7 linked regions of the Homo sapiens genome follow. The protein of the gene in region 7 interacts with the protein of the main gene of each other region in a pairwise test. Each region holds a gene or a part of one and is shown on either strand. Other genes may lie near its edges.

Region 1 (3,500 bases), on a different chromosome or scaffold from region 7:
CTCCATAAATATGCTCTCTTCTTACTAATTATTCTTTCTTTCTTTGTCAAACAGGCTACCAAGCAGTTTCTCGAAGAGATTAACAAGTGGACAGTTCAGTACAATGTTTCCCCGCTGTCTTGGAATGTGGCTGTCAAGTTCCTCATGGCAAGGAAGTTTGATGTGCTCCGTGCCATAGAATTGTTCCACTCCTACAGAGTATGTGGCTCAGGGGTAGACCAGACCTGTGGCAGTTGGGTTAAGTGTTGCTGTTGTCCCTGTCATGCTCGACACACACATTGGTTCTCTAAGTGTTCCTCCTCACTTTCATAAAAAATGGATCCATATCCAGGAGCCCTTGTGAGAGCTGAAGCTGGGCAAGGCAGCTACTGGAAGGCACTACTTTTGTACCTAAGTTTTGATCGTAGACCAGGATGCCACATCTAATGATTGAGACGGAGGAAGTAGCCTGACAGCATCCTGGTGGCAGGATAGGGGTTCACCCTTCCTAGAGTTTTAATCCTAGCTCTTTTCATTGGCCTCTGGCCACATGAAAATCTTGGTTTTCAGGTTGTCTAAGGCTTTTAGAAACTTGCCATTCAGATGAATGATGAGCTTAGTGGGCAGTTCAGGAAGGGAAGTTTTAACACTGGAAAAGAAGAGCAACTGTGTATTAGCTAGGTCCATTATCTTAAAGTATCTTTATGCAAATGTAGCGGCATCAGGATTTTACTTTGTTTTGATTTTTGTTTTTTGAGGGGGCATAGACTTTGGTTTTGTGCTTGTTTGCTTTCTCAGTTAGTAGTGTCTTTGATAAAACACTATACAGCATGTTACTTTGGGGTCAGAATCCTTCTAAAGAAATACAAAATCTCCCTAAAAAAAAAAATTGGGATAACAAGCACTAGGATTAGCTTAACTGAAGTTTGGTTACATCTGTCTTGTGGACCAGCTCATTCAATATTCATTCATTTACTCAACAGATACTTATTTTATACTTACTGTGTTCCAGGTGCAGAGATTACTATTTAGAAAGAGAGACTAGGGCTGGGTGCGGTGGCTCATGCCTGTAATCTCAGCACTTTGGGAGGCCAAGGCAGGTGGATCACTTGAGGTCAGGAGTTTGAGACCAGCCTGAACAAAATGGCAAAACCGCATCTCTACTAAAACTACAAAAATTAGCTGGGTGTAGTGGCACCTGTATTCCCAGCTACTCGGGAGGCTGAGGAGGGACAATCACTTGAACCAAGGAGGTGGAGGTTGCAGTGAGCCGAGATCACACCATTGCATTCCAGTCTGGGCAACAGAGTGAGACTGTTTAAAAAAAAAAAAAAGAAAGAGAAAATAAACAAAGAGTTGTAGAAATGTTATGATAAGGCAGCACTGGATTCTGTGGAAGCACTTTTTTTTTTGAGACAGAGTCTTGCTGTGTCTCCCAGACTGAAGTGAAGTGGCATGATCTCAGCTCACTGCAGATCTCTGCCTCCTGAGCTCAAGTGATCCTCCCACCTCACCTTAGCCTCCCGAGTAGCTGGGACCACAGGCATGCACCACCATACCTGGCTAATTTTTTGTATTTTTAGTAGAGACGGGGTTTTGCTATGTTGCCCAGGCTGGTCTCGAACTCCTGAGCTCAAGTGATCCACGCACCTCGGCCTCCCAAAGTACTGGGATTACAGGCATGAGCCACCGTGCCCAGCCTAAGAGGTTTAAAACAAGCGGTTGATGAAATAAGACAAACCAAGATAATATTTTTTTGTTATCGGTATATAAAGGTAGAGAATGTCTCCGGAAAAAGGAAGTGTAGGTGGTCAACCTTGTCATTTAAGAGGAGAACTGAAGAGGCTGGGCGCGGTGGCTCATGCCTGTAATCCCAGCACTTTGGGAGGCCGAGGCGGGTGGATCGCTTCAGCCCAGGAGTTGGAGACCAGCCTGGGCAACATGGCAAAACCCCGTCTCTACTAAAAACACAAAAATTAGCCAGGCATGGTGGCACGTGCCTGTAATCCCAGCTACTCAGGAGGCTGAGGCAAGAGAATCTCTTGGACGTGGAGGTTGCAGTGAGCCAAGATCATGCCACTGCACTCCAGCCTCAGCAACAGTGTGAGACTTGGTCTCAATTAAAAAAAAAAAAAGAATCTGGCCATCAGGGTGAGGAAAATGAAGTCATGGTAGCTGCTGTTGGAGACAATATCAGGTGGAGAGAAGGCTCCTATTTAAACATAGGAGAGGCCTAAACCTAGAAAATATGTGAGAACGTAGGCATCCAGACATTTTTGAGGTCCATATTTTAGTGTCCTGGTACCATGTCAGTGCTGCTGCGTGTTTAAGAACCTTGATCCTGCACCTGAATGTAACATACTGGTTACTCTTCAGGGTTAGGGTTCTTACTGAGTCAGAGAAAAATACCCTACCTGAGGGGCTGATAAAGTAGCTTTGGACAGGAATTCCGAAAATGCTTGACTGGCTTGGAGGCAGGTTACAAAGAAATTCATAATTCATTTAGTTGACTTCATTATTCATTTAGCTGAATTCTTTTTTTTTTTTTTTTTTTTTTTTGAGACAGAGTCTCATTTTGTCACCCAGGCTGGAGTGCAGTGGTGCTGTCTTGGCTTACTGCAACCTCCACCTTCTGGGTTCAAGCGATTCTCCTGCCTCAGCCTCCTGAGTAGCTGGGATTATGGGCGCGCACCACCATGCCAGGCTAATTTTTGTATTTTTAGCCGAGACAAGGTTTCACCATGTTGGCCAGGCTGCTCTCGAACTCCTGACCTCAGGTGACCTGCCCGCCTTGGCCTCTCAAAGTGGTGGGATTACAGGCGTGGGCCACTGCGCCCGGCCCATTTAATTGAATTCTAATTCAACTAAATGAAGTAGAATTGGTTATGAAATTAGTTACAAAATTTATTTAGTTATGAAATTTATAATTCATTCATTCATTGATAACCACCTTATCTCTGAGATTTGGTGGTTACATGGTGCTGTCCTGGATATACAGTATTTTCATATTAATACATTTTGCTGTGCTTCCTTTTTAGGAAACTCGAAGGAAGGAAGGCATTGTAAAGCTGAAACCTCATGAGGAACCTCTTCGTTCTGAGATCCTCAGTGGAAAATTCACCATCTTAGTGAGTGTTTAGGGACCTATCTTGTAGGGCCTTATTACTTCCTTTTTTAACTGGTGTCCTGTTTGGACTTTGTTTTTTTTTTTTTTTTTTTAATTTTATTATTATTATACTTTAAGTTTTAGGGTACATGTGCACAACGTGCAGGTTTGTTACATATGTATACATGTGCCTTGTTGGTGTGCTGCACCCATTAACTCGTCATTTAGCATTAGGTATATCTCTTAATGCTATCCCTCCTCCATCCCCCCCTGTTTGGACTTTGTTCCTATATACCTTATCCTGAATCTAGAGAGTCTCCACAGTTAGGAGCAGATGTGAAACAGCCATGCAGTTTGGTATAAAATTATTTTAGTAACAATTGAATTACTAATAGTTTCTAGTAATTAGAGTTAC
Region 2 (3,500 bases), on a different chromosome or scaffold from region 7:
TTGGAGGACTTTTCAAAGGTTAGCAGTGGATTTAATACTAAATTTGTAAGGAAGTAGCCTGGACTTATATTTAATACAGACTCTTTGAAAGTCTGTGTTATTAAGTGCAATAGAGGATTTAATTGGTGAAATTTTCGCATATTAGAATTTTTTTTTTTTAAGACAGGGTCTCACTCTGTTGCCCAGGCTGGAGTACAGTGGTGCCATCTCGGCTCACTGCAACCTCCACCTCTCAGGTTCAAGTGATTCTCCCACCTCAGCCTGCCGAGTAGCTGGGATTACAGGCACACACCACCACACCCAGCTAATTTTTATATTTTTTGGTCAGGACAGGGTTGGGACGGGGTTTCACCATGTTGGCCAGGCTGGTCTCGAACGCCTGACCTTAAGTGATCGGCTCACCTCGGCCTCCCAAAGTGCTGGGATTACAGGCATGAGCCACCAAGCCTAGCCAACAGTTTAGAATTTCTCATTTAATTATTCTGCTTTTACATTTTTCAGAAATTTCTCGCAGTCTTCCAAAATGTAAAAACAAAGAGGTTTTCTAAGACATAGTGAAAAATACATTTCTGTGATATCTTTTAAGTTTATTTCATAATGCTTTACTATGCACCCTCTTTGAAAGGGACAAATGTGGATTCCAATTATGGAAAAGTCGCCTGGTTATTGCTTTCTAAAGGACTGAAAAAGCTAATGGCACAAGAGAGAAGACAATACCCTAAAATTATTAAGGCAGGCCCAAAGAGCTCTTGTTGACTATACCTTTAGCGAATTCTTCAACATGCAACCACTCTTTCTCAACTTGCGTTCTTTATTTAGGAAAACTAGGAATCCAACCAAAAAGTACAAAAGCCTAGAAATAAGTGAAATCTCTATGTATTTCATCCAAAAGACCACTGGGATGGCTAGATAGTAGAAAGGAGAGCTTTATTGATGATATCAGTTTGCAAACTGGGAAGAGACAGCCTCCAGCATGTGTGGAAGGTGCCCTCTCTTCCAAGAGAGGAAGGGCAGGTTGGGTTTTATGCCTCACAGGGCCTGTATCACACAGTAGAGTCATACATATTCAGTAGGTTTTGGGGGAAAGCTATCCATATTTATGAGGGGAGCTGAGCACATGCAGAATGAGTAAACATATATGTAACATACATCCCATGTTTACTTCGGGGCAGGGTTTTAGTGTTAGAATGAGGTGAAATTTGGCTCTTCATGTCAAAAGGTGAACTGTAGGACATAAACACAGTTTGTGCACCGCATCTATAAGCTGCTAAAACTGGCTTAAGGTCTGCAATTGCTTACCAGGAAAGAATGTGTGTAAGGTCAGTCTTCTGTCTAGTCAGAGTTATAGTGGTCTGGTTAGTAAATCAGGGTAAGGAGGGGGTCTCATAGCGCCTATTGTTAGGGAATTTCAATCATTAGGAATTTAGTAATTTGCCCTCCAGCCAGGCCTTGAACCCTGGACCCATCTTAGTTGATATAGGAGTGTCTATTTTGGCCCCACAGATCACATATATTCATCAGAATAGTCCGAATCTTATTTTCCTTCTTAACTTGCAATGAGTGAATATACAACGAAGTAGATGTTCATGTTCCGGCTAATTTTAGTTCATCAGCATTTTCTGGAAGCAACCAAAAGTCATATGTATTTAGACAGCTGTGATTTCTGCCAATTCAGCTTGCTTCGGGAACTGAGGGGATTCAATCTTACTTTATGCCCAAATCTGTTTGCTTGTGGCTGTTAGCATTAATCTTTTAACCTTTGATTTGCATTCATCTGAAAAGCTAGAGATGATTGTCCTTAATAATTAGTGCCATTCTTCTGTATTTTTGCTTGGATTACCCATGAAAACTAAATGAGACTTTAATTTACTGAGTAAAGCTCTGTCATTATTTTATCAGTTCTAAAGGGCAAGCGTGATTTATTATACAAATAAAACTAAGGAATGGTTATGTGACTTGTCCTTAAATTCCTGCAGCCAAGTGGATTTGGAATTCCTTTTCTAATCTGAGATTTATCTTCGCAGGAACCACATTGACTTGACACGCCTCACAACACAAAGGATAAATTCCATGCCCCTTTGGCTGGAATATGCTAGTAGATCTATTTTCAGAAGTTAATCTCAGATTTGAGATATTTTAATTCTTCTTCTTATTTATTCCCTGGGATGAGTCCAGTGCTCTGCATACATTCTTAATGCTTTAGGTGAAAGAAGGATCAGGCCAAGAGAAACATTCCTCCCCATGGAACAAGGGGTGGGAAGGGATATAAGAACTCAATGTAGAGTCAGAAGATCTCAATGCTGGAATCATCCACGTTCATTTTTAGAGAAGGAAATTAGGTTCAGAATGAGAAGTGAAGGTGAAGTCTACCTGTTGACCTTGTCTTTGGTAACTAACAAATGATTGGACCCAATGGGAACATTGCTATTTTATGCATTGGATACTTTGAAGATGAAAACTTCATTATAAACCAATGATTATTTAAGAGTTGATATTTATAAGTCACATGTTCATAACAGCATTCCATTTGAATTGAACTGTCTATTTAAGATAAATCCAGCTGTGATAGAAGGCATGGTCTCCATTTTGAACCGGGTTTCTGACCATATGAAACTCAAAGAAGTCTAAAAGTTTCTCTGATGTCTATCTACCATTTGCAGAAATGAAGATCAGATATTATATATTTACAAACTCCAGTGGTAAATATATGTGGATAGACTGTATGTACAGTTAGACATGATTTAAGTTTTTGCTTCTTCCTAGATAGCTGTTTCTATTATGCTACTCTTTATAGCAATAAGAACTTAGGAATCCCCCAACATGAACCAAGCACTGTGCTGGTAAAGAACAACAACAAAAACAGTAGAAGACACTGTGTCTGCCCTCCAGGACCTGACAGTTGAGGTAGAGAAAGAAAATGTATTTGCTTGAAAGTAAGAGGATAGTAGGAAATTAGCATATAGTCAGAATCTATGGGGAAGGATCATGGATGATATGTTTACAGCTTAAAGGAAGAGAGCTACTGATGGACACTAGAAGTCAGGAAAGGCTTCATAGCAGTTGTAGGACTGTGGTGGAATCTTGAAGTGTGTGTAGGATATGAACCAGAAGAGAAAAGGGATGGATTCTAAGCACAGAGAACAAGTATGACATAGTAACACTGATGACAAGTGTGAAGGGATAAAAATACATATGGTAAATTCAAGAGATATTTAATAAAGGAGTCTTGTCAGAGTTGAAGATTCATTTTGGCAAGTGGTGGAAGATGAGGCCTCATAAATGGATGATGAAAGGTCTTTGCACTGAACTAGAGTTTAAACTTAATTTCATATACAATAGAGAGCTACTGAGGCTATAATCAAAAATCTGGCATAAATAGAGTATAATCTCGTCTGTGGTATGCTATCCTGTCTGTGATATGAAACATATGTTAAGTCCTTGTGAGTTCAGCTTTTTGTCCCAGCTAATTATCATCATTATTAAGGATTATCTTTCAAAAT
Region 3 (3,500 bases), on a different chromosome or scaffold from region 7:
TTTGGAGGTGATGCTAATAAAGGTTGGTGCTGGTGTTGAGTGTGGCAAGACTGAGGGCCGTGTGCCCGATGGCTCCTCCTAGCTCTTGCACACCCAGAGGCAGTCTTCAGTGTAGGGCGTCTGCCTCTTTCCACTATTTATGTTTAAGATCAAACTGGCTCTGGAACCAAGCTTTGCCTCTAGTGGGTAGGATCACTGGTGCTGAGAATTGTGATACCCTCAGTCCTGGCAGCTGACAAACTTTCCAGAGCAGGGAGTTTGGCCAGATGGCCTTTGAGAGCCCAGCTGGCCCCAGAATTTTTATGACTCAATTTTCTGTAACCAGGAAGACACATTTCAGGATGTAAACCTTGCTGATGTCTCATATTGAGTGACTATTGATTTAACAAAAAAGGAGTTATTGATTTGGGGCAGTGTTCTTCTCTGCTATCTCTCAGCTTCCTAGGCAGTAAGAAGAAAGGACTGGAGCCTGAGTCAGACAGGTGTGGAAGGGTCCAGCATCCCACAGCTTTGGCCCTTAGGAGATTGCTCAGCCTTGATGAGCTTTAATTATCCTATCAATGAGTGGGGATAATACCTCACCAGGTCTTTGTAAGAACTAGAGGTAATATAAAGTGACAGGCAGACAGAGGGGAATAATAAATGGTAGCTGTTCTTGTTATTATTCCTATTTCATTGAGATATTAAACCTGAAGTAAAAGTGTTTTGAAAGATTAAGAATATAAAACCGAGGCCAGGCACGGTGACTCACACCTATAATCCCAGCACTTTGGGAGGCCGAGGTGGGCAGATCACTTGAGGTCGGGGGTTCGAGACCAGCCTGAGCAACATGGTGAAACCCTGTCTCTACTAAAAATACAAACAAATTAGCCAGGTGTGGTGGTACCCACCTGTAGTCCTAGCTACTCAGGATAATCACCTGTGCCTGGGGAGGTTGAGGCTGCAGTGAGCTGTGATCATGCCACTGAATTCCAACCTAGGCAACAGTAAGACCCTGTCTCAAAAAAATATATATATATATATATCTATCTGCCTGGCATGTAGTATGGGCCCAATATAGAGAAAGTCAACAGGACTCCGTCATTAAGAACAGGAATGCACTGAGCTGTCTGTGGGGTAGTCTACCACCCAGCTTGGTGCCTCGCACTTGGTTGGCATTCAGTAGTATTTGTGGAGTGACCAAAGTTAATTTAGAAGAATGGTCTGGAAATTATTCTAGAATACAGCCCCTCTCCCCAACCCAAGGATCTGCTTTAATTTCCTATGGCTGTTGTGATAAATTACCACAAAGTTTGTGGCTCAAAGCATCATAAATGTATGATCTTACAGTTCTGGAGGTTAGAAGTCTGAAATTGGTCTCACTAGGCTAGAATCAAGGTATCAGCTGGGCTGGTTCATTTCTGGAGGCTCAAGGGCAGGACCCGACCCCTTGCCTTTTCCAGCCTAGAGGCTGCCTGCATTCCTTGGCTTGTGGCCTCTTCCTCACAATGGCATCACTCCAGCCTCACTTCTGTCTCCCATCACCTCGTTCTGACTCTGCCCTGCCTGCCTCCCTCTTATATGGGCCCTTGTGATTACATTGGGCCCACCTGGATAATCCCCCATCTCAGGATCCCTGACTTCATCATATCTGCAAAGTCCCATTTGCAGGTAACATTCACAGGTTCTGGGGATTGTGGTATGGGTATCTTTGAGACACCATTATTCAGCCTACCACAGCCACCCACAGTATTTTGGCCAGATTTAAAGACAACCCTGTAAGCGTCTGAAAGAAACGTTGAAAGAAACCCTTCAACCTCAACTTTAGGATCCTTAATTACCTTCCTGGGTGGCAGTGGTTCGTGAATTCAGTCAACGCTTGCGCTTGTAATTTGTGTGGGTGGATCACTCTGTGTGTGTGGGTGGAGTGGGAAGAGTCAGAGTTGTCTGAGACAAGAGCCTCCCACAAGGAGCTTATAGTTTGAAGAGAAGAGAGGTCCATGTGCAAGAAGAAGAGTAACTTACAATGTAGGAATCTGACCAGCAAGTTAGATCAGCTGTCAGGAGAACGTAAATATGGAAGAGCTGGGAATCAAGGGCCTGAATAGGAATACGTTCTTGAATTTATATGGTGCTTTAACACATTTCAAAGTATATCCACCCACCCCTCCATTTATATTGGACAATATAATAACTTATACCATCATTTCGAGGAGAGGAAACAGGTCAGAGATGGTTCGAGAATATGCCTGGAGCAGCCCAGCTGGTCAGGGCAGAGCTGATTCCCAGCCCCAAGGCCCCAAGGCCCTCACCCTTGGCTAATGGGTGGGTTTTCAGACGTACAGAGATGAAGGGGCGAGCGGGCCTGCCTGAGAAAGTAGGACCTGCAGAGTGGAGTGCGCTCACATGGCTCGCGCGTAGCTGGAGGCTGGAAAGGAGGCCGGGGGCCTGATTTCGATGCCTGGGACTTCAGGCGCAGGAGTTTGGGTTTTATATATATGTCTACATACATGTCTACAGGTAGAGGAGCCATTTGAGCAACGCGTTGGCATGATGAACGTGGGTTTTTTTATAGGGAGAGGAATCTGGCAGGAGAGTGTTCCATGGCTCGGAGCTGGGGAGCTTGTGGGAGTTAGAGGGGTTTTCTTCCCAACTGCCTCTCCCTGAATGTACCTGGACAAAAGCCTCCCATGCTGTTTTCTCCTTTAAGGTGAAGTGGTAAGGAATACCAGTGGACATTTGTGTCCCTGGTTTCGAAGCAGGCTGCCAGCACTTTGGACTGCCTCTCCTGAATGATGCCTCATACCACAGCACTAAATAAACCACACTGGTCCTCCCCAGCCCAGCCTTCCTCCCAACTCAGGTATGAGACTGTGCCTGGCAGGAACAACTGCGGGTTATCCAGACTGATCCCATTCACCCTAACCGTTGGTCTCACCAAGTCTGAACTTCATTCCAGAATGTCTGTGTGCTTGCAATACTACTACTAATAATAATGGCATTAGCTAATGGTTTTTAAGCACCTACTATATGTCCTGAATGCTGTTACATGGATTTATCCAGTCCTTTCAAGAACAGATGAGGAAACTGAGGCACAAAGATAAGCTCACATGACTTGATTTAGGTCACACTAGCAAGTCAGTGGCAGAGTCATGATGTGAACCCAGATCACCTAACCTCAGAGCATCTTAACCATGTCACCAGTATCACTTCCTGAGCCAAATATTTTAATTTAAATGTTTTAAGCAGTAAACTTCACTAGGTTTTTAGTCAGAAAACTAAATTGCCATCAGGACCTTGCGCTTGGCTGGTTGGCCTTTAAAAGCCTTGTGTGTCATCGGCTATATCAACTCACAGAGTGGGAGAGGCTGCTTGGGACCCTCTGTTGCCTGCCTGTGGTTGGAGCTCTGAGCCCATGCAGGTTCGCTCACAGTGTTGGGTCCTTCTCTGGACTATCATCAGAGGCTGGAACTTTGCCTTCTGCTGCTTTTATATCACCCCCAACCCTGCCCAGCTCCCAA
Region 4 (3,500 bases), on a different chromosome or scaffold from region 7:
TTTTCTATATAGTTATGTACATATATGTATATAGATAATTAAGTAGTTTTTATATAAATGAATCATAGGGAAAATATGGTTGTCTTACTTTTCTACTTAAGATATATTTGTGCATACAGATCAACTTCATTCTACTATTTTTACTATCTGTATGATATGGAGATGGAGGGTGTGTGTGTGTGTGTGTGTGTGTGTGTGTGTGTGTGTGAGTGTGTGCATGTCTCCTAGTTAACCATTCCTCTCTTAATGGAAGTACAGGATATTTCCAAATTTTTGCTTTTATAAACAACACAGCAATAAACATCCTTGGCTATATCTCTTAATATACGCATATGAGTTTTTTAAAGATGTTTAGAGCCACTTAGTAAATTGGCATATACTCTAAAAATATTGGTTCATACTGCCAAGGTGCCTTCTGAGAAAGATGTATTGATTACATTCCTACAACAACATATGAAAGTAAGCATTTTCCTACACCCTTGCCAATACTGGATTATATCAAGCTTTTAAACTTTTACTATCATGGGTGCAAATATATTATTGTTTTATTTTATAACAACTGCAAACCAAAGAAAATACAACTGCTAGCTATATTTATGCTTAGGGCATAAGAAAGGCTAACAAAGTGAGAAATTATCAAAATGAGAACTTCTAAACTCCAAATTTTACCAGCAACTGTATTTATTGATGTTTCCTCACAACCATGTTTATTTTATGATTATTTTAAAACAACTATGCATATTATGAGTGTAGCTGAGATAGGGAGCAGGGAAGAAGTAAACCGTAGACAAAAGGAGAAAGGCAGAAGAAAAGCCAATGGAGGATTTTAGAACTGGAAGAGAAAACAGTTGTCATCTAAATGAACCCCTTCCTTTTACAGATAAGGAAATGGACACGGTTGCAAACCTGTAGAAGAGGGAAAGACTCCAATCTTCTTGTTCTCAGTCTGGTGCTCTGTTCACTATAAAAGTCTGCCAGAAGGGAAGTCAAACTGGGAAAACCTAAGAAAGGAAACTGTGAAAGACAAAGCCTACAGGAGGGGGTAGCAGATTAATTTTTAATTAGCCCCTTAGAAACCGAAAGAAGCTTGATACCTTACGCAGCTTTTGTAACACTACTAAGGACATCAGTGCAAAATAAGGCCTGTATGACATGTATCTGCTCACACATCAAGTGACTAAGTGTCATAAGCCCTCATATACTCTCTGCAGGTGCTCTCCTTGGTGCTGGAGAAAATGGGAAAGTGTATTAAATGTTATTAATGTCCCTGTAAATTCTGTATCAGATTGAGAACTGTGATTTGTGTTTATATAATTCCTTTTTATTTTTAGTGTATGTATTTTAGGGCTATTATGCTTTACAGTGATCATTGATCAATGGATCTCTACTCCTGAAATAAATTGAGTCTCAAATGACTAGGTCCTTCTCTCAGAGACCAAACCTTTTCACTAAGGGATGGACTTTTCTGAATGCCTGAGAAACTCTCTTAATGGCTACCAGTAACTAAAAATGGATATCATAATAAAAACTGACTCACAACCTATTTTACTAGACTTCACATACACATGTGGTTCAGTTAGGAAGCTGACATCTCACTTAGTAAAGGTGTGGGCCAGACTGCAGCAGGTGAATGAGTCATGGATTTTAAAATTCTCTATTTCCCATGGCTTTAATTACATAGGGTTTTCAGCATGACACTGTATTTTATACAGATCAGGTCACAAATGAAAACTGAAGGAAAAAATAATCCGCTTTACAAAACCTTTATGCCTTTTTCCCACTCTCATTCTCTAATTAACAAATAAGCATTTTCCAACCTAAGACATCAAAACCTTTGGCATGTTAGTTACAATCAAGCTGATATATCTTTGTTATAGTTGCATTAGGGTGAAGTGGAATATGATTAAACATAGCATTGTATTGAAATTATAACATAGCACTGCAATTTGAAAATTTTGACCACTGTATGGTCAGAACTACCTATTGAACATCTGAATCTAACCTTCTAATTTTATAGGTGAAGGGGAAAAAAAGTCACAGAGAAGTACGATAATAAAGTTAGGTTTAGAAACTTTCCTCTGGTCCAGTCTAATGTACTTTTACAACTCATCATTTCAAAAGAGTTATAAATGAGAATCTGTCGAAACAAGAAAAAGAAAGAGAAGGAGAGATAGAGAAAGAGAGAGAGAGACGAGGGAGGGAGAGAGTTGGAAGGGGGAGAGGGAGGGAGGGAGGTAGAGAGAGACAGAAGGAGGGAGGTAGAGAGAGAAAGAGAGAGAGATTGAAAAACAATTTGTTTCAGAAAAGTATTGCTGAGATGAACTGAGAATAATGGTCAGGGTTAGGAGCAGGAAGCTACTCAAAAGAGAAGCATCCAAATCTACACTGAATATTTCAGAAACATTTGTTTTGTCACAGGCGTCTGAACCAAAGCCACTCCATTTTGAATACAGGCTGGGTAAAATAAGACTGAGACCTACTGGGCTGCCTTCCCAGAAGGTTAGGCATTCTTAGGATGAGATAAGAGGTCGGCACAAGATACAGGTCATAAAGACCTTGCTGATAAAGCACGTTTGCAGTAAAGAAGCTGGCCAAATCCCACTAAAATAGGATGGCGATGAGAATGACCTCTGGTGGTCCTCACCATTACAGTCCCACCAGCACCATGACAGTTTACAAATACCATGGGAATGCCAGGAAGTTACTCTATATGGTCTAAAAAGGGGAGGCATGAATAATCCACCCCTTGCTTAGCATATGATCAAGAGATAACCATAAAAATAGGCAACCAGCAGCCCTTGGGGCTGCTCTGCCTATGGAGTAGCCATTTTTTCATTCCTCTACTTTCTTAATAAACTTGCTTTCATTTCACTATATGGACTCGCCCTGAATTCTTTCGTGAGCAAGATCCAAGAACCCTCTCTGGGGTCTGGGTCAGGACCCCTATTTGGTAACAGTCCTACAAGCCAAATTTCCTGCAAGGTGTTAAGGAGACTACTCCAAAAATAACTTTAAAAATTGTAGACTGCATGAAATAGAGTTTGAAGACTCTAAATATCTCCCCAAAAAGTCCATTTTCACTTCCCTCTTCCTCATTTGAAAGGCCATTGTTCTAAAACAGAAAAACAAAAAAGCAGGAAATGGAACTTTTTCAGATGCTACAAGCTGTCCACACTCCCACAGCACAGTGTCCTCCCCACTTGCCAGTGTCTATGGAAACTTCAAGTTGGGAAGTTCAAAGTTAAGGCATCTGTTTAGCCTTCAGCATTTATTCCTACATTGTACTCCAAGACAGCTCCTTCCAAACTTAGGCCAGACTCCAGTGAGGGCAGGCAAGGGAAAAACTTCATCAACAAGGAGGTCAAGGCTTTTTCAATGGATGGCAAGATCTCCTATTTCTTGTGTCTTTTGTGTATCAGTGGAATAGCCACTATTTGTGAATAAAACAACTGCCCACCCACCAGGCTTAGAAAATTATTCAGCAGCCTAGAAACACGGTA
Region 5 (2,204 bases), on a different chromosome or scaffold from region 7:
TTCCCTATGAACAGGGTGTGCTTACGTTGATAAAATGAACCAAAATCAGCTTATGGAAAAGTTAAAAATACAGTTTACTGAAAGATTATGTATCCTCACACAGAGCAATAGCAAACAATCCAATCTAAAAGTTTAAATAAATGTCAATAATTTTAAAACTAACTATATTTTATATGTATATAAAGCTGAAGTCACTGCCTTGGATAGTGTTACACTGCATCCAATATTTTATGAAGGACATTCATTCTTAAGGCAGAAAAATTGAATTTGACATGTAATGACTTGGTTCTTACATCCAAGGATCAAACTAGGAGTAGACTGGAGCAGACAGATTCCTTGCTAACAAGGATTTACCTGTGGTGACAGTTTCATTCTTAGAGTATGTTACGTAAGAGACATACATTTGAGAGAACATATAAATATGAATCTTAAGACACACAAATATGATTTTTTAACGATTGGTCAATGAGACTAGGCATTCTATTATGTGAAATGAGTCCCATGACAAACGCCAACATACTCTTTCTGACATGGTACATAAAAAGTATAAAATATCAAAGAACTACTTTTTTGGGGTAGACATTAGATTCTAGTTTTCAAGGTTTAGTATAAAAGGTAGCCTGAATAGTTAAAAGCAGCTGAATGTCAACTCACTGCTACTTGGAAGGCTACCACTTAGGATATTCCCACACCATCAAAATCCTGTGCAAGGAGGAAATACATGTGTATTAAAATAAAAATGAAGCGCCTCCCCCAATACATGTGCAACATACTTGTCAGTTACTACCAAGAATATCTTGAACGAAAACCAGCTAAACTATAGAATGAGTGGCATCAAAGTCAGAGAGACGTAAGAACATACCACCCCGCCTAGGTGGACGGATATTTGGGATGAAAGCAGGTGTTCCATGGGCACCTGGGGAGATGTGCTACTCAGAGTGGAAGGGGGTGTGAAGAGGAACTGGACCCAGGGTTCCAAGCCCTCAGGGCTGTGTGCTCCTTCACCTCAGGCCAGTCTGATTCTCTGCATCCTGGTGCCAACAACTTTAACAAAACAAACACAAATCTAAAAGACCATTCTGAAGCAGGTGATGGTGACTATAACTGTTTAAGTACCTTTTTGTGTGCCTATTTATGCCATAGATCTGGCAATTGTCAGAAGTATACAAAGATTACCTGCCTAATTTTTGAAGACATGAAGATTTTCTTCTTTCACTGTGGCAGGAGTCCATGCAAGATTTGTAAACAGCGATACAAGATACTGTAAACATAACTTAACAGAGCTTGTATAAAACAGAAGAAATAAATCCAGATTTACGAGTGGATAAAAAAAACAGAGGGCAGCTTCTTACAAAGTTCTCCCTCCTGCGCCAAGTGATTTTTTTTTTTTGATTACAAATATAATCCTGAGCTGAAAAACTGGGATTTGGGGGAGAGCCATCTTTGCATACAAAATATCTAAAGGATGCTTCTCTGTTTACTTTTCTCTAGTGATATTCGACTGCCAGAGACAGTTCTGAATGTGTGACTTTGGAGACATTTATAGTTTAGTGTGGCGCCCGGGTCTGGAGCCTGCTGCAGTGCTTGCCACGGAAGCGGATGCGGCAGCATCCTCTGCTTCCTCCAGTTCATCCTGGAGTTCTTGGCTGACACTAGACTGCAGGGCTGCGGGCGTGAGCCACTCCTTCGGGAGGCAACTCTGTAGAAAGGGTATACAGGAGCTGAAGTAGGCAAGTCGATTGATCCAGCGAGGAATCTCTTTCCCACAAAGAATCTACAGAAGAGAAAGAGTTCTGTATTAGGTAAGAGAGGTTAAGATTACCTGGTCCACTGCCAGGGAGTGGAGGGTGGGAGGAGGGGGGCGGCGTACAGAGAAGCCACGGCAGACTAGCCTTCAGTGGTGTCACTCCAGGCTTTTGATAACAAGCAGCTCTTTACTCAGGACCTGGGCTCCCTACTGTTGGCTCCATTCCTTCCTTTCTAAAGAACCTTGTCAAGTTGCTTACTTTTCATATCTGTGAAATCAAGCTAATTTCACTTGGCTCCTTTCTTTGATCTCTGCAACTGCTGTGAGACACACTGAAAAGTACTTTGAACACACAGAAGACGCTTGTTAATACAATATATTATTAGAGTAATAGAAGCCCCAGGCAATTGGAAGAGTCAATCTTGGATATTTTCCTATTTGTGAATTCTTCTTTTTC
Region 6 (3,191 bases), on a different chromosome or scaffold from region 7:
GTGTTCTCCACCATGCCCAGCTAATTTTTGTGTTTTTAGTAGAGACGAGGTTTCACCATGTTGGCCAGGATGGTCTTGATCTCTTGACCTCATGATCCGCCCACCTCCGCCTCCCAAAGTGCTGGTATTACAGGCATGAGCCACCACGCCTGGCCTGAGGGTTTCATGATTTTTAAAGCTGCCTCAAAAGAGAATATTGTTCTTTGGGAAATTTGAAACAAGCACATGAAGTACTACATTAAAAGTTTTATGATATTTACATTTCTTTCTTTTTTTCTTTCTTTCTTTCTTTTTTTTTTTTTTTGAGACAGAGTCTCGCTGTGTTGCCCAGGCTGGAGTGCAGTGGCGCGATCTTGGCTCACTGCTACCTCCACCTCCTGGGTTCAAGTAATTTCTCCTGTCTTAGCCTCCCGAGTAGCCGGGACTACAGGCACCTACCACCATGCATGGCTAATTTTTTTTGTATTTTTAGTAGAGACAGGGTTTCACCTTGTTGGTCAGGCTGGTCTCGAACTCCTGACCTCAGGTGATCCACCCGCCTCAGCCTCCCAAAGTGCTGCGATTACAGGCGTGAGCCACCGCGCCCGGCTATTTACATTTCTTTAAAAAAATTTTGATAGAAACACATAATGTCAAATTTACCATCTAAACTGTTGAAGGTACAGCTCAGTAGCATTAAGTATGTTCATGTTGTTGGGCAACAGGATATTTACATTTCTGATGCTAGTGAAGGTAACATGCTCTGCTGTACTCACTACACCTTGGACTTTTAAAAAATTTGTCTTCTTTTGAAAATAGATATATAAGGGATATGTTGATGATCCTCGAAACACTGATAATGCATGGATGGAGACAGAAGCTGTGAACTACCATGACGAAACAGGTAACTTTATATTTATTAAACTGGCTGGGATTAAAGGATCAATTTAAGCCATTAGCCCACTAAGGCATGATTAAATCTGGACTATTTAGCATCTTAAACCAATTAACTGTTGATTGTAGGACTGTAGTTATATGAAAGCAAAATTGTTGGTATTAAAGGAATACATAGAAGAAATCTTCAAAACTTTTATCACCAGTGACTAAATTTTCTTTAATCCATTGGTAACATTTGAAATTAAGGATGAAATTATGGGCTAAAATGATATGCTTTAAAGATGTCAGATTATTTATTGAGTATAGTTCCCTTTTTTTGCAAAACAAAAGCAACTGGGATTTGGGTAGGAAGTATGGCAATGATAAAGGAAATGGGATTTATATCTTACTATTTCAAATATTTTTATAATAATCTTGGATTGTTAATACACAAAGCAATAACAAAAAATTCCAAGTACTGAAAAAATTTTAAATGAATGCTGTTTCTGGTGTATGGAATTTAAAATTTTATGAGGAGGGTCAAACCTGTTATTACAGAAGGAGAAAGGAAAAATCTGCTGTCTTAAAAATTAATTTGGTCTTAATGTACACATTGAATGGCTCCCTTGAAACATATTTTATTGCTAAATTTGATTTGTTTTTATTTGTAGCATAAAAGTGGGGGCACCATGCTAGAGAAATGAAATGAATGTTCCACTCATAGTTCTTTCTGAGCTGTGTAACCTTGTACAAATCATTTGTCCTCTTGGACTCAGTTTTTTCACTTACAAAATGGGCTAGAACTAGATCTGTCATTTCCATATCCTGTGCTTTTGCTTGTTGAACTTGGAGGAAACTCCTGGGACCATTTTCTATTCCTGTATTTCCACTAAGGTGTATTAGAAGAGTTTATCCTAGTATGAAAACTTAGAAGAAATATGCAGATGTAAATTAGAAGCAGGTCTGTACAACTTTAGTACTGATAAATTTGTTAACTACTTTAAAGTTTTGGAGTTAAAAACAATGACTGATCCTCCAGAAGTTGATTATAGAGTTTATGGATTGTTCACTGTTTTTACCCTATCTTTTTCTCTCTTTAAACTTAAAAAATTTTGTTTTGATAATTCCAAAATCTCTGCCATATTTGAGTTCGGTTTTAATATTTGCTTTGTTTCTTTAGGCTATGTTTTTTGCCTTTTAGCGTGCTTTTAGTGCTTTTTTTTCTTTTTTCTTTTTTTTTTTTTTTAACCCCGAGATGGAGTCTTGCTCTGTCACCCACGCTGGAGTGCAGTGGCATGATAATGGCTCACTGCAACCTCTGCCTCTCGGGTTCAGGCGATTCTCCTGCCTCAGACTCTCAAGTAGCTGGTACTACAGGCATGCACCACCATGCCTGGCTAATTTTTGTATTTTTAGTAGAGATGGGGTTTCACCATGTTGGCCAGGCTGGTCTCAAACTCCTTACTTCAGGTAATCCACCCACCTTGGCCTCCCAAAGTGCTGGGATTACAGTCATGAGCCACTGCGCCTGGCTGTAGTGCTTTTTTGAAAATTGACCATGATATAACTTGTAAGGGAACTAAGGCAAATAGTTCTTTAGCGTGAGGTTTTATGTTTATCTGGCTAGGAGTTAGGCTGTGTTTTTTGTTTGCTGTCATTGTATGTGTCAGAGGCTAAAATTTCCTCTAGTTTTGGGTTTCCCTGGAGACTTATTAAATGAGGTCTGAAGCATGCCCTTCTTTCAGCTGTCTTCCCCTTTTATTAAACAGGAGTCCTATTGATAGATATGGTGGTAAATTCTAGAGGAAGGGGAATCATAGGAGAATATATGGTTAGATGTCAGTCTTTTAGTGAGCCTGTGGCCCTGGGCTGTGACCCTTCATATGTTATTCTCAGCTTCCCTCCTTCCTCCCCAATCCTTAGGAAAGACAGGAAATCCAGCGGGGGCTGGAGTTGGGTATTTCCTTTCCCTCAGGTTGCTTAGGGCTTGGTAAAATAGTTTTCCTTGAGGGCAGAGTGATCTGGGTGTATTTGAAATTGGTTACCTTTCCCCTCTCCATGTTAGAAAGGAGAGAGGATTTTTCTCCAGTCTTCACCTGGTGGCTTTCTTGGAGGTAAAGCTCACTAAAATGTAGGCCCCCTCTTCATACTGGTATGGCTGACCCCCTAGGAGATTTTATCTTTCAAGCTAGTCCAAAGGTCAGCTTTCAGCAGTTAGTTACCCTTTAAGTGTTCCTACCAGGTGCTGACTCCAGCGGTAGGCTTCTCTCCCTGGTCAGTTGTGATTCTCTGTATTTGCCTGTCTCTCCAGTTTTTGGTATGGCAGTGTGGTCTCT
Region 7 (3,500 bases):
AAAATACACACTAGATTTCAAAGAGTACAAAAAAGGAATGAAATACCTCATTAACAGTTTTTTTGTCTTTCTTTGTTTCTTTCTTTCTTAATTTTCTTTCTTTTCTTTCTCTCACTCTGTCACCCAGGCTGGATGCAGTGGCACAATCTCAGCTCACTGCAGCCTCTGCCTCCTGGGCTCAAGTGATCCTCCTACCTCAGCCTCCCAAGTAGCTGGGACCACAGGCGTGCCACCATGTCCAGCTAATTTTTTATATTTTTGGTAGAGACGGAGTTTCACCATGTTGCCCAGGCCAGGATATTTTTTATATATTGGGTTAAGTGAAATATATTGTTGATTAATTTCACCTAATTCTTTGTATTTTATTTTTTAATATGGCTACTGAGAATTTAAAAATTTAATATGTGGCTCACAATGTATTTCTATTGGACAGGATTACTCTAGAGAGAAATTTTGTGGCCAAATTTATTTGGGAAAAAGTTGGATATGCTATTTCTCCTTGAAGATTTATTACAAATATTAGGATAGGAATACTGAAGAGTCTTACCCACAAAAAGTTTTTAAGATTTTGGTTAACCCAGCAATTCCCAAACATATCATATTGTTGGACTATTAGTTAACATTCTATGGAACTAGCTGTAGAACTATAGAATTTGTTAATCCCAGTTTTGGAATAGTTCTACTTCAATTATCTTTGTTTTACTGATGAGAAAACTGAAGGGTAGAGTTGGTCACATTACATAACTTGGAAATTATATAAACATCTCCTTAGGGAAAGTTCAAGAAAAAGATATATACGTATATTTATTGGTAGGGTGACCACTTGTTTTTAATTTGGCATAAAATCATTTAAATTGATAATATAGGCCAGGTATGGTGGCTCACGCCTGTAATCCCAGCACTTTGGGAGGCCAAGGTGGGCGGATCACTTGAGGTCAGGAGTTCGAGACCAGCCTGGCCAACATGGTAAAACCTTGTCTCTACTAAAAATACAAAAATTAGCTGGGCGCAGTGGCATATGCCTGTAATCCCAGCTACTTGGAAGGCTGAGGCACGGGAATCACTCAAACTCAGAAGGCGGAGGTTGCAGTGAACCAAGATCATGCCACTGCACTCCAGACTGGGCAGCAGAATGAAACTGTCTCAAAATAATAGGCCAGGTGCTATTTATTACAGGCTCATGCCTATAATCCCAGCACTTTGGGAGGCTGAGGCAGGTAGATCACTTGAGGTCAGGAGTTCGAGACCAGCCTGACCAACATGGTGAAACCCCATCTCTACTAAAAATACAAAAAAAATTACCCGGGCATGGTGGCACACGCCTGTAATCCCAGCTACTTGGGAGGCTGAGGCAGGAGAATCGCTTGAACTTGGGAGGCGGAGATTGCAGTGAGCCAAGATCGTGCCATTGCACCACAGCCTGGGTAACAAGAGCTAAACTCCGTCTCAAAAAAAATAGTAATAAGATAAAATAAATTGATAATATAGTGGGGAAGATCTTAAATTTATTTTTTTAAATCTTGGTTTCTGCCTTCAACTTCTGGTTTTAGTCTACAACATTGCTTAATGTTTTACTGTGTCATATCCTGGGACAATGATTATTAACCTTTTAAAATTATAGACTGAGATTCTGAAAAGAAAACAAAAGCTTCACAGATTCTCTCATCAGAATTATTAATATGCACACAACTTGTGTAGGATTTCAGGAGGTCATTGACCTTCTAAACCTATCCATTGACTGCAGATTAAGAATTCTTCTCTTATGATTCAGGGATAATGAATTTATGGCTATTAACCAACATAACTCTCACTCTTGAATTGTAGTATTAAAAAGCCCACCAATCTGTAGATGTTTATTAGGTATGTATATTGCATAATTCTACACTGAAGAATCCCGTAAGTATAATATAGTGTCACCACTCACAAGGAATTTAATATTTCCTATGGCTTAAAACATATTTTTGAAAAAACTTTACATGATAAGACTCATTTTACCTTACCTTAGAAATATTTATGGAAAGCTCTATAAAATTTTAGAGTAAGTGAAATACACAGGGTTCAGGAAAGGTTAGTCCTCTAATGAGCAGTTAGAAAAACCATCATGTGCTATATGTGAGCAATGTTTGGGATATCTCTAGGGAAGTGGACATTATTATAACTTCCAAACATGTCTTGCATTGATCAGTGATTTTTCTGTCTTCTCACTCCATCAGGGACACCCGTGCAGTAAGATGCAGAATTTCCCATCCTGCATTTTTAAGAAAAATGCCAGAAGAGACTCTTTTTCTTCAGGAGTATAAACTGATGCTTTATTTACCAGGCAGTACTGGATTTCAGTGTAGGCCCAGTTATACAGATTTATAAATCAAAGAGAATATAGATGAAGTTGGATGCAGTGGCACACACCTGTAATCCTAGCAGCTCAGGAGGCTGAGGTGGGAGGATCTCTTTAGGCCAAGAGTTTGAGACAAGTCTGGGCAACATAGCAAGACCCTGACTCTAAAAAAGATTTAAAAATTAGCTGGGGGCCAGGCGCAGTGGCTCATGCCTGTAATCCTAGCACTTCGGGAGGCTGAGGCAGGTGGATTGTCTGAACTCAGGAGTTTGAGATCAGCCTGGGCAACATGGTGAAACCCCATCTCTACTAAAATACAAAAGAAATTAGCCGGGCGTGGCGGTGTGTACCTGTAGTCCCAGCTACTCGGGAGGCTGAGGCAGGAGAATTGCTTAAACTCAGGAGGCGGAGGCTGCAGTGAGCCGAGATCACACCACTGCACTCCAACACTCCATCCTGGGCGACAGAGCAAGACTCTGTCTCTACAAAAAAAAATAATAATAATAAAAAATACATAAAAAATTAGCTGGGTATGGTGGCACATGCCTGTCGTCACAGCTACTTGGGAAGCTGAGATGGGAGGATTGCTTGAGCCCAGGGGCTTGAGGCTGCAATGAACTATGATCATACCACTGCACTCTAGCCTGGGTGACACAGTGAGACTCTGAATATTAGGGGAAACAAATGTGTGTGTGTGTGTGTGTGTGTGTGTGTGTTTTTGTGTATGTACTGAAAGAGACAATGTCTGAGGATTTTTTTTTTTTTTTTGAGACAGAATCTTGGAATCTCGCTTTGTTGCCCAGGCTGGAGTGCAGTGGCGCGATCTCGGCTCACTGCAAGCTCCATCGCCTGGGTTCACGCCATTCTCCTGCCTCAGCCTCCCGAGTAGCTGGGACTACAGGCACCCGCCACCACGGTGGGCTAATTTTTTGTATTTTTAGTAGAGATGGGGTTTCACTGTGTTAGCCAGGATGGTCTCGATCTCCTGCCCTCGTGATCCACCCGCCTCAGCCTCCCAATGTGCTGGGATTACAGGCGTGAGCCACCGCGCCCGGCCTGAGGATTGTTAACTAAAAAGTTTGAGACCCAGATCTGATCCTTATTTTCTGTTGGACATCCCTTGAAGAGTTGAGCTGCTTTACAGAGATGGCTTATATCCACTAAA

The links.
Region 1: the proteins of PBX3 (region 7) and PTPN9 interact in a two-hybrid assay, tested with the Homo sapiens proteins (one large-scale study listed by BioGRID).
Region 2: the proteins of PBX3 (region 7) and GAD2 interact in a two-hybrid assay, tested with the Homo sapiens proteins (one large-scale study listed by BioGRID).
Region 3: the proteins of PBX3 (region 7) and COQ8A interact in a two-hybrid assay, tested with the Homo sapiens proteins (one large-scale study listed by BioGRID).
Region 4: the proteins of PBX3 (region 7) and TRIM44 interact in a two-hybrid assay, tested with the Homo sapiens proteins (one large-scale study listed by BioGRID).
Region 5: the proteins of PBX3 (region 7) and DESI2 interact in a two-hybrid assay, tested with the Homo sapiens proteins (one large-scale study listed by BioGRID).
Region 6: the proteins of PBX3 (region 7) and NUDT9 interact in a two-hybrid assay, tested with the Homo sapiens proteins (one large-scale study listed by BioGRID).

The regions. Positions count from the first base shown.
Region 1 is NC_000015.10:75,523,816-75,527,315, reverse strand, and holds part of PTPN9 (tyrosine-protein phosphatase non-receptor type 9), read left to right. Parts: intron 1-54; coding exon 55-198; intron 199-3,017; coding exon 3,018-3,107; intron 3,108-3,500. UniProt on the Homo sapiens protein: Protein-tyrosine phosphatase that could participate in the transfer of hydrophobic ligands or in functions of the Golgi apparatus.
Region 2 is NC_000010.11:26,296,774-26,300,273, forward strand, and holds part of GAD2 (glutamate decarboxylase 2), read left to right. Parts: intron 1-3,500. UniProt on the Homo sapiens protein: Catalyzes the production of GABA.
Region 3 is NC_000001.11:226,946,794-226,950,293, forward strand, and holds part of COQ8A (atypical kinase COQ8A, mitochondrial), read left to right. Parts: intron 1-2,689; exon of another isoform or gene 2,690-2,842; intron 2,843-3,500. UniProt on the Homo sapiens protein: Atypical kinase involved in the biosynthesis of coenzyme Q, also named ubiquinone, an essential lipid-soluble electron transporter for aerobic cellular respiration.
Region 4 is NC_000011.10:35,721,775-35,725,274, reverse strand, and holds part of TRIM44 (tripartite motif-containing protein 44), read right to left. Parts: intron 1-3,500. UniProt on the Homo sapiens protein: May play a role in the process of differentiation and maturation of neuronal cells. May regulate the activity of TRIM17. Is a negative regulator of PAX6 expression.
Region 5 is NC_000001.11:244,705,126-244,707,329, reverse strand, and holds part of DESI2 (deubiquitinase DESI2), read right to left. Parts: intron 1,775-2,204; coding exon 1,541-1,774; 3' UTR 1-1,540. UniProt on the Homo sapiens protein: Has deubiquitinating activity towards 'Lys-48'- and 'Lys-63'-linked polyubiquitin chains. Deubiquitinates 'Lys-48'-linked polyubiquitination of RPS7 leading to its stabilization.
Region 6 is NC_000004.12:87,453,573-87,456,763, forward strand, and holds part of NUDT9 (ADP-ribose pyrophosphatase, mitochondrial isoform a precursor), read left to right. Parts: intron 1-798; coding exon 799-883; intron 884-3,191.
Region 7 is NC_000009.12:125,925,373-125,928,872, forward strand, and holds part of PBX3 (pre-B-cell leukemia transcription factor 3), read left to right. Parts: intron 1-3,500. UniProt on the Homo sapiens protein: Transcriptional activator that binds the sequence 5'-ATCAATCAA-3'.